3 separate regions of the Homo sapiens genome follow, and regions 1 and 2 are each reported to be linked to region 3. The links are microRNA targets in miRTarBase. Many come from high-throughput screens and were not tested one by one. Region 3 holds a microRNA gene; each other region holds the end of a gene's coding sequence.
Evidence for each region. The annotated mature microRNA hsa-miR-1245b-5p reads UAGGCCUUUAGAUCACUUAAA and lies in region 3 at 1,199-1,219, shown strand. An mRNA with a match to its seed (bases 2 to 7 or 8) in the 3' UTR can be bound and repressed. Matches are read on the target gene's strand: a 7mer-m8 pairs with bases 2 to 8, a 7mer-A1 pairs with bases 2 to 7 and ends in A, and an 8mer does both.

Region 1 (4,242 bases), not on the chromosome of region 3:
GCACTCCAGCCTGGGTGACAGCAAGACTGTCTCAAAAAAAAAAAAAAAAAAAAAACAGAAAAAAGAAACTAGAGACAATACAATAGTGGCTGCCTAGGACTGAGGAATTTGGGAGGAAAGAAGAAAATGATGACTAATAACAATAGAATTTCTTTTTGGGGTGATGAAAATGTTCAAGAATTTTAAGAGTGGTGATGGTTGCATAACTTTGAGAATATAAGAAATTCTTAAATTGTACACTTCAAAAGGTGACTTTTGGCCAGGTGTAGTGGCTCCCAAAGTGGCTGTAAAACATTCCAGCACTTTGGGACGCAGAGGAGGACTGCTTGAGACCAGGAAGCTTGAGAACAGCCTGGGCAACATAGCAAGACCCCATCTCTTAAAAAACAAAATAGTGCTTGGTAGCACACACATTAATCCCAGCTACTCAGCAGGCTGAAGCGGGAGGATTCCTTGATCCCAGGAGTTAAAGGCTGCAGGGGACTATGATTGCGCCACTGCACTCCAGCACAAGACCCTGTCTCTTTTTTTCTTTTTGAAAAGAGTGACTTTTATCTAAAAAGTTAAAACTATAGAAGAAATTAAAGCAGGGAAGACTGATAGAGTGTGAGTTTGTGTGTGTGTTCTATCTTAAATAAGGTTGTCAAAAAAAAAAAAGATCTCAATCAAGCACAAAGAATAATCAAATAGTAAATTGTTAACATTACATATTTAAACTCCACTACCAAAATGACTGAAATATACTTTTGCTAATTTAGAAATCGAGGGACTATAATCCAAACTAAATCCTGAAATTTAAAATTACTGTTTTTGAGAATTGTAAGATTAATCGAACAAAGCCTTAAATCCTTAGTCTATATAAAGATTTTAGATTCCTTTGCCATAGTTTAAGGTAACAAAATTTAATACAGCAACAAGGACAAATGTGTATTTCAAGTTTTCCAAAAATATTTGTCACAGCTTTGCAGCCACTTTCATGCGTGTTGTATTTTTTAAATTTTCTATTTCTTTTTTTACTGTCTTTGGTTTGCCTAAATCCTCATCGGTCTTTTTTATGCTTGAGTACTCTGTAAACACTTCTGAAACAGAAAGTACACTCCTGGCCAGGCCCGGTGGCTCACGCCTGTAATCCCAGCACTTTGGGAGGTCGAGGCAGGTGCAACACGAGGTCAGGAGTTCAAGACCAGCCTGGCCAACATGGTGAAACCCCGTCTCTACTAAAAATACAAAAGTTAGCTGGGTGTGGTGGTGCACGCCTGTAATCCCAGCTATTCAGGAGGCTGAGGCAGGAGAATCGCTTGAACCAGGGAGGCGGAGGTTGCAGTGAGCCAAGATCACATCACTGCACTCCAGCCTGGGCGACAGAGCAACTGTCTCAAAAAAAAAAAAAAGTACACCCCTGAGTTTAGAGCATCTTCACCTTCCCACAGCAAGAGAGGTGTGACCTCAACTCACCATTTTCAAAGACAGAATAAGGCTTTAAAATAACCATTACAGTCCAAAATCCATATATTTACTTTTTATTGAATTTGTTAATGTTACAGAATTCTTGCACTGCCAAACCATGCCTGAGAATTCAAACAAATGGTACAATGGACAGCCTCATCCACCCATCATACAGTATATTAAAACTTGATTCATTTATATTTTGATATTTTCACAATCTTTTAAAAAGTTATAACAAGAGTTGTAATTTAAATCTGCTGCAGGTCTTCAGATTTCGAGTACAATATGCCTTTACATAACACCTCCACTTACTCATCTGTTCATTCTTCAGTAACATAACCCCCAACAAAATTTTGTTGGGAAAAAATGCAGGGAAAATGCACAGTTCAACGATGAAGAGATTTTTTTAAGGTTTTTCATTCCCAAATAAAAGTCTTCAGTTTACCAAGAATCCCATTTCTGATTTAATCATTCAACCTTCCCTTGGCTGGCTCAGTTACTCACCCAAATATATTAGAAGGCAGGCATCCTGCCTGCCACCTCAAATGTCAACATTGCCCAGATGCGAGTGGCAGGTCCCGTCAGGAGATACTGTAACCCTCCTCGGAGTCCAATTCCTGCACGGACACTTTCGTCAAGACTAAACTCCTATCTGAAAACGCTCCCACGTCAAAATAGTTTTACTCACCCACTTGCTTCACTCTTGCCAGTAGCAAGTCTGCAACTCATGCATTTGGCAAAGGGATTTATTATAGAGAAACCCGGACTCTGCATCAAATGATGACATTACCACTTTCACATATTTCTATTGAACCAGATACAAAACTAGGAAACTGCCAGACCATCTTGTTAGGTGGACACTCTTCTGTAATCCTGGGTAGCTTCCTCAAGTCCCTTTAAATGACCCAAAACTATTAATAGGTATTTTAAGCAATAATTATTAAAAACAGAAGTGCTACATCACCTGTCTTTCGCCCTGACTCTCCAAATGAACATAAAGACACACCAAAAGGCTGGTAACAGAGCTAGCTGGGACAATCACTGCATCTATAGAACAGCCAATACCTTGAAAAACTAGGCACAAGTACATGAGGAATTCTTATCAAAGATCATGCACAATCCATGCCACTTAAATGGGTTTTAGCTGAGGTTTTGCTCATGTTACTCTGAATTTCTAAGGACAGATCAGTGACCCTCTTAGCCTGAGCAGAAAGCATATTCTTCCCACTGCAGTTTCCTACACAATTTAGTCCTGATTAGATGAGGCATTATAGCAGCACCTGAAGTAGAGCCTCCAGAATCCACTGCCCTTTTCATCAAAGGCTATTTGGTTCCACCCTCAGGATTGGCATACTCACGAGACATTTCACAATCCTAATGCATACTTTAGGTTACTTAATTAACCAAGCAATATGCTCTGTCAAAGAACTTATTTCAAGTCAAAGCAAAAAAGGCCTTAATGCAGAACAAAAACAAAACAAAAAAGCACTATCCAAATAAAAAAATTACCAAAAAAAAAAAACCCCCAAGATTATTCTCTCCCTTCCCCTTCCCCCACTTGGTGGACCCCAGTTTGGTTGAATTTATTTTGTGGTTACCTCAGAATACAATTAGTTTAAATTACAAATCACAGCCCTACACAGATGATCTGAACACATCAGTTCTTTTCAGCAGTGTGTTCCAGGAAGTCTAATATAACAACAGCCTACTACAGAGAGTATTCCTTAAGGGTAGGGCACAGGACAGGTTAATTAAGGTCACTTAAATCTTCATCTTTTACAGCAGATCAGAACCCAGATGGCTGACTTTTTATGCAGGATTTCTGATAAGAATCCAGTAGAGCTGGTTGCAAGGTTCACATCGACACTTAATAGTTGTAATCTTCTTATCCAGAAGTTGTGATCCACATGAAGTCCACAATGAGTGCAGCAAATCTGAGGTAGTCAACCCTTATGAAGGCTCAGTATCTGAACATAAAAAGATTTTGAAATGACCACTGGCTGCAGGTTTTGGTTTTTTGTATTTGCAGAGTAAATATGAAAGAACACTGTTGAAACTAGTTCACACATTTATGTAACAATGAAAATTCCCCTAAATCCAATATGCATAGAGCAGTCGTGACACTTTAACTTCCATAGTGCAATAGGGCCGGTCATGAAATCGAGTGGTCTGCATCGGTGTCTGTAGATCCAGCAGAGATCAGATGATGAATGGCTGTTGGTGGTGGTTAGCTGCAGTCTAGTTACCTCAGAAGGGTTAGCAAAGCCCATTCCTTAATTGTATTGTGAGTGGCTGCTTTTCTGATTTTCAAGCACAGCATATTGGTTGTCTAGCTGAAGTTTAAGGGCCTGGTTTTTTGAAACCTCATCCCTACCTCTATTTTTGTGTCTTACTACTTCAAAGCTCTTCTCCATTTCTTTATCCCTAAGGGAAAAGAAATGTAATCAGTAAATATTTCTTCTTCACTAGGGTTTTTGAAAATATTCGTCCTTGAATTTAAAAAAAAGCCACCCCTTAGAAGAATCCTGGGGAGGGGTAGGAGTGGAGGCATATAGAAAATCCTTATCAAACCATTTTAAGGCTTCAATTCAAACAGAAAACACAGAACGCTGTATTGAAGCTCTAGGGTCCTATCTTCTACTGAACAGTATTAACTGTGACCCTATTTCAGGACAAACTTGAAGAAAACTGTTAAAAGCTGTGTAATGACATTCCTCCTAAGACTCTTACTTTTAGCAAGTAATAGATAATACATCTCTCTCTTTATGCACAAGGGTAACAATTTTCTCATTCAAG
Region 2 (4,200 bases), not on the chromosome of region 3:
GCCTGGCCAACGTGGTGAAACCCCGTCTCTACTAAAAAATATACAAATTAGCTGGGCATGGTGGTGTGCACCTGTAATCCCAGCTACTTGGGAGGCTGAGGCAGGAGGATCGCTTGAAACCGGGAGTGGAGGTTGCACGGAGCCAAGATCACACCATTGCACTCAAGCCTGGGTGACAGAGCAAGACTCTGTCTCAAAAAAAAAAAAAAGGAAGTGGGAAGCAGAAGGTAATATCCAGAACACTAGTAACAAGGAATGTAAAGCCCCCAGAAGACCTTCCCCATGGGATGAGGACTCAATTTCAGAGCAATGCCAGGTTTGAATAGACTCACACAGAGGGCCCTTCTCTGCTGACAACTTTGGGAGTGATGGTCCTACCCAGGCCACTTAAGTTTGGCTAAGTGTTTCAACCAATCTGCAAAACTGTACCCCAGCACTTTGCTTCCTGCTCCTGAATTGAGAAATTTCATATTTAGTTGTGAATCACAAGCATATAGAGACTCCACACACTAATTCCTAGGGAAGAGAGCTCCAAGGATCACAAGCATATAGAGACTCCACACACTAATTCCTAGGGAAGAGAGCTCCAAGGACCAGACAGAATTATCCTTAAATCAGGAGATGATGAGATAGATGCCTAAAAAGCATAACTCAAAGGGGTGTGGACTTCATAGATATCCAATCTAAAGAAAATGATATGACCCAACATGGTTCACTTCCTTTCTTAAATAGCTACTTTGTCCCTGTTCAATTTTTATCTACAAATATATTAAGAAAAGGAAATCAAGCATCACTATAAATGGTAAACCTCAATCATTAAGTAGTACTGTGTTCCCCAGGCTGAGAACTTGGCTAAACCAGATGAATGGGGCTTGAGAGGCCCTTGAAAACATTCCATGGAAGACAATGGTAAGGGAAAACGCCTAGGCCTGATTTTCTGCCCTCCCTCTTATCACCAGCCACCCTGCCCCCCTCAGGCCTGGATAATGGGTGGAAGACACCACCAAGTGTTTATGATCAAAGAAACTATAAAACATGGTTCTTAGGCTCTGAGATACTTCCTGCTTCCCTCACAAACATGCTTATGTTTGGTGTGCATGCACATTTGCCTATCAGCACATATAAAGAGACAGTGGAAAAGTCAGAAGTGTTTTCAGGTTATTTTCTTTAAAAAAAAAAAAAAAAAAAAAAAAAAAAAAAAAAAGCAAAAACCATGGACCTGGTAGCACTCCAATTTCCCATGATCCCACCCCCAACCCCTCTACACAATAGAAACTGCACATATAAAAGAAAGCCTTCTCTAGTCAGGTCAGCCTCCCAGAATGATGGCCTCTGCTGAGTAGAAGCAAGACCCAGTCCCTGGAACACTGGATAGACAGTAGGCATGTGCTGCCTCTCAGAATACCCATTTACTTTCTGTCAACTTCAAAAGCCAAGCCCATCCCTCCAGGGAATGGTTTCAGTTCCCGGCTGGGAAGGTTTCCGGATTCTTGGAGGCTAGTACAGTGATTTCCTAGAAGTGAACACAGAAATACTACCCCCTTCTCCCGACAACACACACACACAGACATACACATGCACACATGCATCTCTGGGATCCCAGTGCTCCAGGGCCTGAGAGGCATCAGTGTAACCCAGGTTCTGAGTGTGTCCCATAAATTGGAGATTCAGTCTAGCTCACTCCTACTGCACCAGCCTCAACCTGAGAGCTCACTCCAACTGAGTCCCTTCACCATCCATTCTTGGGATGCATCTGAAAGAGAAAGCACTGGTTGGAACTGCTATTTTTAAATTATTAAAATAATTTGCATAGCTAAATTGTAGATCTAAGGCTTCCATGAGTAGAAGAGTTAAGTGTCTGGCAGGGTGCTTATGAAAACACAAAGCTTCTTAAGTTCCACTTTTGGTGTTATTGGACAGCAGACAAACACACATATACACATGCACCCCATCCATCATCTCCTTGTCTCTTCTCTGAGGACAATACCCCAGAGTCTGCTAAGGCCCTCCAAAGATGGAAATGGGCTGGTCAGAAGAGCTGTAGGAGCTACTACTGGGATGACCTGACTAAGCTGCCTTCTGGGCTGGGAAGAGGCAGGTACACCACCTGCCCAGTAAGGAGGGAGCCATGGGTAAGTGGTAAAGCTCTAAAGCCAAAGTTTGTTCATCATAAAGAACTGTCTGGCAAAGTGTTGGGGTGGGGGATACAGAGGGGGCGGGGACACCAGTAGGAAGACAGCCAGTGTTTATGCTTAAGGACTAGACGACCCTCCCCTGGCAATGGCAATAAGGGGAGACCCAGAATGACTGGTGTGTTCTTTTAAGATAAAACCCAGACTTAGGGCTCCTACAGAGAAAGGGCTCCTCCATGTTCCTTCAAAGATGGAGGCAGCAGACACCAGGCCTACATGGACCACCTGAAGATATTTTCGAACATGAAATCAACAGTCCCTCAACCCAGCAACCGCCTATCCACAGCTTCACTATTCAGCATAGAGAGCCAACATCTAACATCATCCCAGGAGGACACAGCTCCAAATCTGGGGTCTCTTACTTCCCAATTGCAAACTCCATGATCACAACTTTCGATTTCTGTGGAATGAGTCCCACCCTCCACTAACTATCCAGTCTCAGGATTCCCTGATCTTCCTGAAAAGCCATCTCTCAAAAATATAGTTGTTTAATCCAAACCTTGGTCAAACCTAACTCTTCCCCTGGTCAATTTACCATCCATCCAGGATTGTTTTTCACCAGTGGCTATAGGGTCTGGGATATCTTAAAACTTCCCTTTCTATCACCTACCCTCCTTACCCCTAACCTCCCCCCACCCCCAAATAAACAAGACACATGAAAAGTCCAAGTAATAAATAATTGCCCATAAGAAATAAATTAACATGGAGCTCTCTAAAGGGGAAGGAAAGGAACAGAAAAGACTACCAGGATAGGCAGCTGGGGGCTCAGTTCTACCCTGGTGAAAAATGTATTTTCCAGCCACAACTCTGCGACCTTTCATTCACGTACTGCAGTGCTTCTCCCTCCCAGCCTCTGCACACAGACAACCTTCCAAGCTGGAAAGGGAGAGCTGCTCAGAGATAGCCACCGGGGTTAAGAGACATAGATTGGTAATGCCCATTTTCTCTCATGAATTTCCCCAAATTCTCACACAAATGTGGCTCTGAATACCAGGGACTTGAGTTAGCTGGGCCTTCTCTTCACCCATCCCGAAGGAAACTTGTTATTTCCATGGCTCTTCTGGGCTCACCCTGATGTTCACACTAGGTGCCATGAACCACCAAACTGACTTCCATTTAAAGAAAGATAAATTCATTTTTCAGTTTCCCTCTTAGTTCTTCCCTCCCTCCCCTCCCACCTTCACCCCTGCTCTGTTCCATACATACACATACAAAATAAACATACACACACACACTCACAAACACACATACCTGGTCAGCTTCCTTCCCACCCCCTAAAAAGACCCCACTTCACATGGGATCACAGTCTGCTCCCCCTACCCACCCTCCTTCTCTCACTCATTCTCCCTTCCTTCACTCCCCTCCCCAGGCCAAGCTAAGTCACCTAGTAAGGCAGCTCTCTTGGGAAAGAATGTTCCCAAAGACAGAAATGGGATGTGCGCTTCTACACTCAGATGGGCGAGCAAGCAAGCAGACAGCATAAGCAAGGCAGGAAGGAAAAGAGGCTGCACTGCCCCTCCATCCCTGTTTTGGGTCCCTGATTTCCCGCTATTGCTGCTGTGTTGGACTTTTTTTTTTTTTTTTTTTTTTTTGCCTCTTTTGTTAAACAGCAACAGAGCTCTGCCACTTTGGCCAACCACCCTCCTTTGTCCTCTTCCTTTTCCCTCCTGCCAAGTGTCCTATTCTCAAAAGGTCTAAATCACTGCCTTTCAGCTTGGTGGGCAACCTGCTGGGGGCCCCAAGTGAGGTGGGGAGGGGCTCCCTAGCTATTTCCCAGTGACCTCTATCACATCATCGTCTTTATCCTCATCATCATTGGAGCTGAACCCAACCTCGGCAACCTCATGAGAGTCAAATGGAGGCACCTGGGACCGTAGGAGGCCACCAGCTGGGTAGCCTGCATGTGGGGACATGTAGCCTGGATAGATAGACATGCCCCGCGAAAGGTTGCTGGGCAAGACAGGGGAAGGAAAAGGCGCAAACATCCTCGGCTCGGACAGGAGTGGCT
Region 3 (4,242 bases):
ATACATCTAAGTTCATCAGAAGTTTTCACTGAATGAAACTGGAACGTTGTGAACATGCTATGCAACTCCAAAGAGTATTTCTGTGATTTTAATTTACTTGAGAAATGCAGTCTCTGTCATCCTCCACACAAAATACTATAGAAAAACAGTTTCAGAAAAATATATGCCATTTTACTGAAGCAGTACTTTCTTAATACTAGAATTCAAGGGAAGTTTAACTTTTAATAATTTCTGGATCTTTTCTCTTTGATGTTTACATCTTTTGGGCATTTTGACTCGTCCTCTTTCAACGTTTCATTTTGTTCATTAAGACTACATTTTAAACAGCAGTGCTTGACCTCAGTCATGGAAAAAAACAAGGGTTTTATTAGTTAATCTGAAAGGAATCCACTTCTGCTGTGTTTTCATTAGACACAGACTGAAACTCTGGTGGTTAATGTAACTCCCCCAACTGCAGTTCACAAATGATTTATGTAAGAATAGCTATCTCATTTTTTCCGTTGTCATCTTGACATGAAACAGGCAAAGTTTCCCCTTTGAAAAGTCTGGAGAGTTTTTTTTTACACTATATGATCTTTTTTTTTTTTTTTTTTTTGAGTGTGGAAACAATGGGATTGAGCTTTTATCTTAGGGAAAACTTTTACAAGAAACAGTTCACTGAGAGGGTTCCAGAAAGTTATTGTAGACCTGGAAACTTTACAACTGTTCCTCATGTCCAGCAAAAGCAATAACATCTTTCATCTTTAAAGCTTTAATTCTTTAAGCAATCTACTTTAATCACTTCAAGGCGGTGATATCATTAGATGTTACAAAATTAAAGAGCTGGGCTACATAATTTTTGGAACTCTGCACCAAAGAAGCCATTCACAATGGAAACTGTGGAGTTTCGGTAGATGGCACTCTTTTCTCTGAGTGACAACTCAAGGTCCAGCATGTGACCGTAGATGTAGAACAGGGGCTTTCCTGAGGAGCTGTCCTTTAGCCTCAACTATAATCCTGGTAAACTCACAGCCAATCATTCTTGATTTTTAAAAAGAAGCCTGTAGATAAGACATCAATCCAGGAATCTGAAGTAGTTAAGAGGCATTTAATCACAGTCTTTCCTTCTTTCCCAGAATTGTTCCAGTGGATTTGCTTTCTTTTCTTGTAATGCTGAAATGTTTAATTCCAGAATTTAATAAAAATACCTTTTTATATGTAGGCCTTTAGATCACTTAAAGAGTATTCAACATCAGATGATCTAAAGGCCTATACATAAATAGGTAGTTTTGAAAATCCAAATTTTTCAAGGCTCTGTTATTACCTGAGCATTTTTCTTTCCCTAGAAAAAAAGCTCAGGTAAGTAAATACAAGGTATCATGGATGAAAAACACAAAGTGTTATAATACTTTATTTACTCACACAGAACTGGTGATAATTTCTTTTAAAATGATAAGATCCTGAGCTTCTGGGGTTTAAAAAAATTAACGTACTACTCTCTATAAAATTGAATATTAAACAGAAAAATACCTATTCTTTTTTCACCTTTAGAAATGCATTATTAGTTCATGTACTTTCTAGGACGATATATAATTTTTTTAGTATCTCCTTTCAATGACAAATAGTTACAAAATTAAGAAAATTCAAATATCTGATTTTAATGTGTATTCTATAATTATCTAAGACTGAACAGAATATTGGTCCTAGCCTTGACTCCGTCATTTTCTAGTTTTGTAATCTCAAATAAAGCACTGATCCATGTTAGGTGACTGACACTGAGATATGTGAGCAACTATGCATTCTCTCCCTTTAAAAGTGCAATTGTTCCTAAATGTATGTAACCTTTTCCTGTTAGTTCAGTGTGTTTAATTGTAGGGACAAACACAAACCAGAAAACTTGAATGTTACCTGAGCAAGTTACAAATTCCCTCTTAAAGCATAATGAAAAAAATATACTCTCATGACGTCTAATAAGAAACTGATTCTCTGAGTCCATTTACAGTTTTAAAATTCTAAAACAACTAGAGGCCTACAGTTTATTTTACTGGAATTATCACTGTAGCAAAATATAGAAACTCAAACATTAGTACACATTTAATTAAAATAAAGTTTCTGTTTCTGCCCTAATGGAGCAGTATTACTTAGTAACAGCTGTCTATAATCTATCTAACAATTAAGCAGTGAATAAAATACTTATGTCAAATAAGGACTACATCAGAGACATGAAAAATGTATTTAAACAATAGTCATATGTAGAATTTTTAAGTGGCCGTAACATTTAAGCTAATTTCCAAAAAGACTCTGAATATTGTTACCATTGTGTTTTCGTGTCAGTATATGTGTTTGCAATATTTATCCGTAACATACTAATTTCCTTAGGAGAGCAGTGTTAACATTTAAAATTCACGCATATGAATTTTTTAAAGCTCATTATAAACTACCAAAGCCAGCTACATAACATTAATATTGGCATTCGTTATGTAAATGGTAACCTGGCTTGTCAGCCACTAGGTGACGCATCTTTGTACTTAAAACTTGGCATGTTTATAATCTACAGGAAATATAAAACAGACTATGTTTCTCCATTGGTGGATTAAAACACATGAATTAAATACAATGTTCACAAATTTGTAAGACGACCAAAATTCTTTTTGAGGACTTGTTTGTATCCAGAAAATGCCTGTGAGTGAACTAGAAGTGAGTGTTCATTAGAGCTGTGCCGTCTCTGAAGTTATGAGGGCATATATAAGAAACCCCACCCCAGAACTTTATGACAGCTCTCAGTGTGCTGTATATTCAGATACCTCCTGTAACTTTTCCAAAGCTTATCTAATAGCAGAATTTCCTTGTAAAACCCACAGGGAACATAAGATGTACTGTCTTAAGTCACTTCAACTTTACTTTTACTCATGACAAAAAAAATAGGCTGAACAGTTCTCTTTCAACTCTTTTTGAGCTTAAGAACACACAAACACATATCAGCAAAATTTTATACTTATTGATTATTTTTTGCATCTAAAGAGAAAGAGGGAAATAAACAGAACTTAATGTGATGTCAAGGTACTGTAAGTGGCAAACACCCCCCCACTAAAGTTGGATTGGGAAGAAAAATAGCCACAGTGCTTATAAAAAGCTTGCAACCACGAGGCAACTACAAATATGTTGCAATTTTTTGAGCTAAAACCCCTAAGTTTGTAGTCTTTTCAATAAATGGTTGGTGGGGGATAGTAGTCATTTGGTATCCTAAAAAAGGACTGTGAGTTGTAGCATCTCCTGGGAAGAGCAGGATAGGGAGGAAAAGGGGAGAGGAATGAGAAAGGAAGAAGGATTGAGAGTTCAGGGGAAAGAAAGGGTGAGGAGGCAAGGAGAGAGAGAACTAAAAAAAAGAAATGGAGGCATAAGGAGGCCACATGGGGAGTAGGGAGGGAGTAACAGGCAGGGAAGACAGAGGAGGAGAGAGGAGTAGATATGGGCTTGCCTAGGAAGGGGTGGGGTGATGAGTGAAGAGAAGTCTAAAGGAGCCAAAAGGGGTGGAGAGAGATAAGGAGGAGGGCAAAGCGAAGGAGAGGAGGGGTAAGGAGGAGAGGAAATTAAGGGAACAAGGAAAATGGGTGTTTCTTTTCTTTTGTGTCCATGGGCTGAATATAACTGAAGACATTTCATTGTATATCTACCCCTCCCCTCATACACACATTTACATGTATTAGCTATGAGGACAACAAATACATTTGATATTACAAACAAAAACCAAATTTTCATGCAGTGTCCTTTGCAAAATCTATATGTTTAAATGTAACCATGTTTAGTTATGTGCAATAAAAATTGTCTAATAATTTCTCCTAGCTATCTTTACATTTAGCACTTAAATATTTATTTCTATGGAAGTTTGTATTCCAATTTGTTCAGCATTTTCATGACTATGGTAAATAAAAGAATATTTTCACATAAATAATGAGACAAATGTGTTTTTAGGGGAAATTAGAATATGAAAAACATTACATGCAATTATTAGAAAATATAGCAAAACAGCTTTCTGAAGTCAAACAGTACTAGTATCTTTACCTTGTTTGCAGCAAAGTCAAACCTCCTGTTGAAACATTTTAAAAAATATTTTCTTCATTAATGCGAATGTGGTTAAAACGTAGAATATGTGGAAAATATTAGTCCCTTAATATCAAGCTACTAGAAAAGATGAATTAATCAATCATTCTTGAAACAAAATAAAAACAGGAATAATAAAATATTTTAGCAGTTTGATCCCTT

Region 1: the mRNA of CDV3 is a reported target of hsa-miR-1245b-5p. Seed matches in the 3' UTR shown: 7mer-m8 at 2,898-2,904.
Region 2: miRTarBase lists RAD54L2 as a target of hsa-miR-1245b-5p. Seed matches in the 3' UTR shown: 7mer-A1 at 925-931.

The regions. Positions count from the first base shown.
Region 1 is chr3:133,587,524-133,591,765 of GRCh38, reverse strand. CDV3 (CDV3 homolog) reads right to left here. Exons shown (of 5, transcript NM_017548.5): 5 at 1,505-3,870. The coding sequence ends at 3,720. Among named protein-coding and RNA genes, the nearest start is that of CDV3, 16 kb to the right of the region's middle.
Region 2 is chr3:51,663,179-51,667,378 of GRCh38, reverse strand. RAD54L2 (RAD54 like 2) reads right to left here. Exons shown (of 23, transcript NM_015106.4): 23 at 1-4,200. The coding sequence ends at 3,959. Among named protein-coding and RNA genes, the nearest start is that of TEX264, 6.0 kb to the left of the region's middle. RefSeq lists an enhancer at 4,192-4,200.
Region 3 is chr2:188,975,110-188,979,351 of GRCh38, reverse strand. It overlaps MIR1245B (microRNA 1245b), which reads left to right and starts at 1,191; the gene lies at 1,191-1,259. The region is part of intron 1 of COL3A1 (collagen type III alpha 1 chain); the gene reads right to left. MIR1245A (microRNA 1245a) reads right to left here and starts at 1,260; the gene lies at 1,191-1,260. The region is part of intron 1 of LOC105373791 (a long non-coding RNA gene); the gene reads left to right.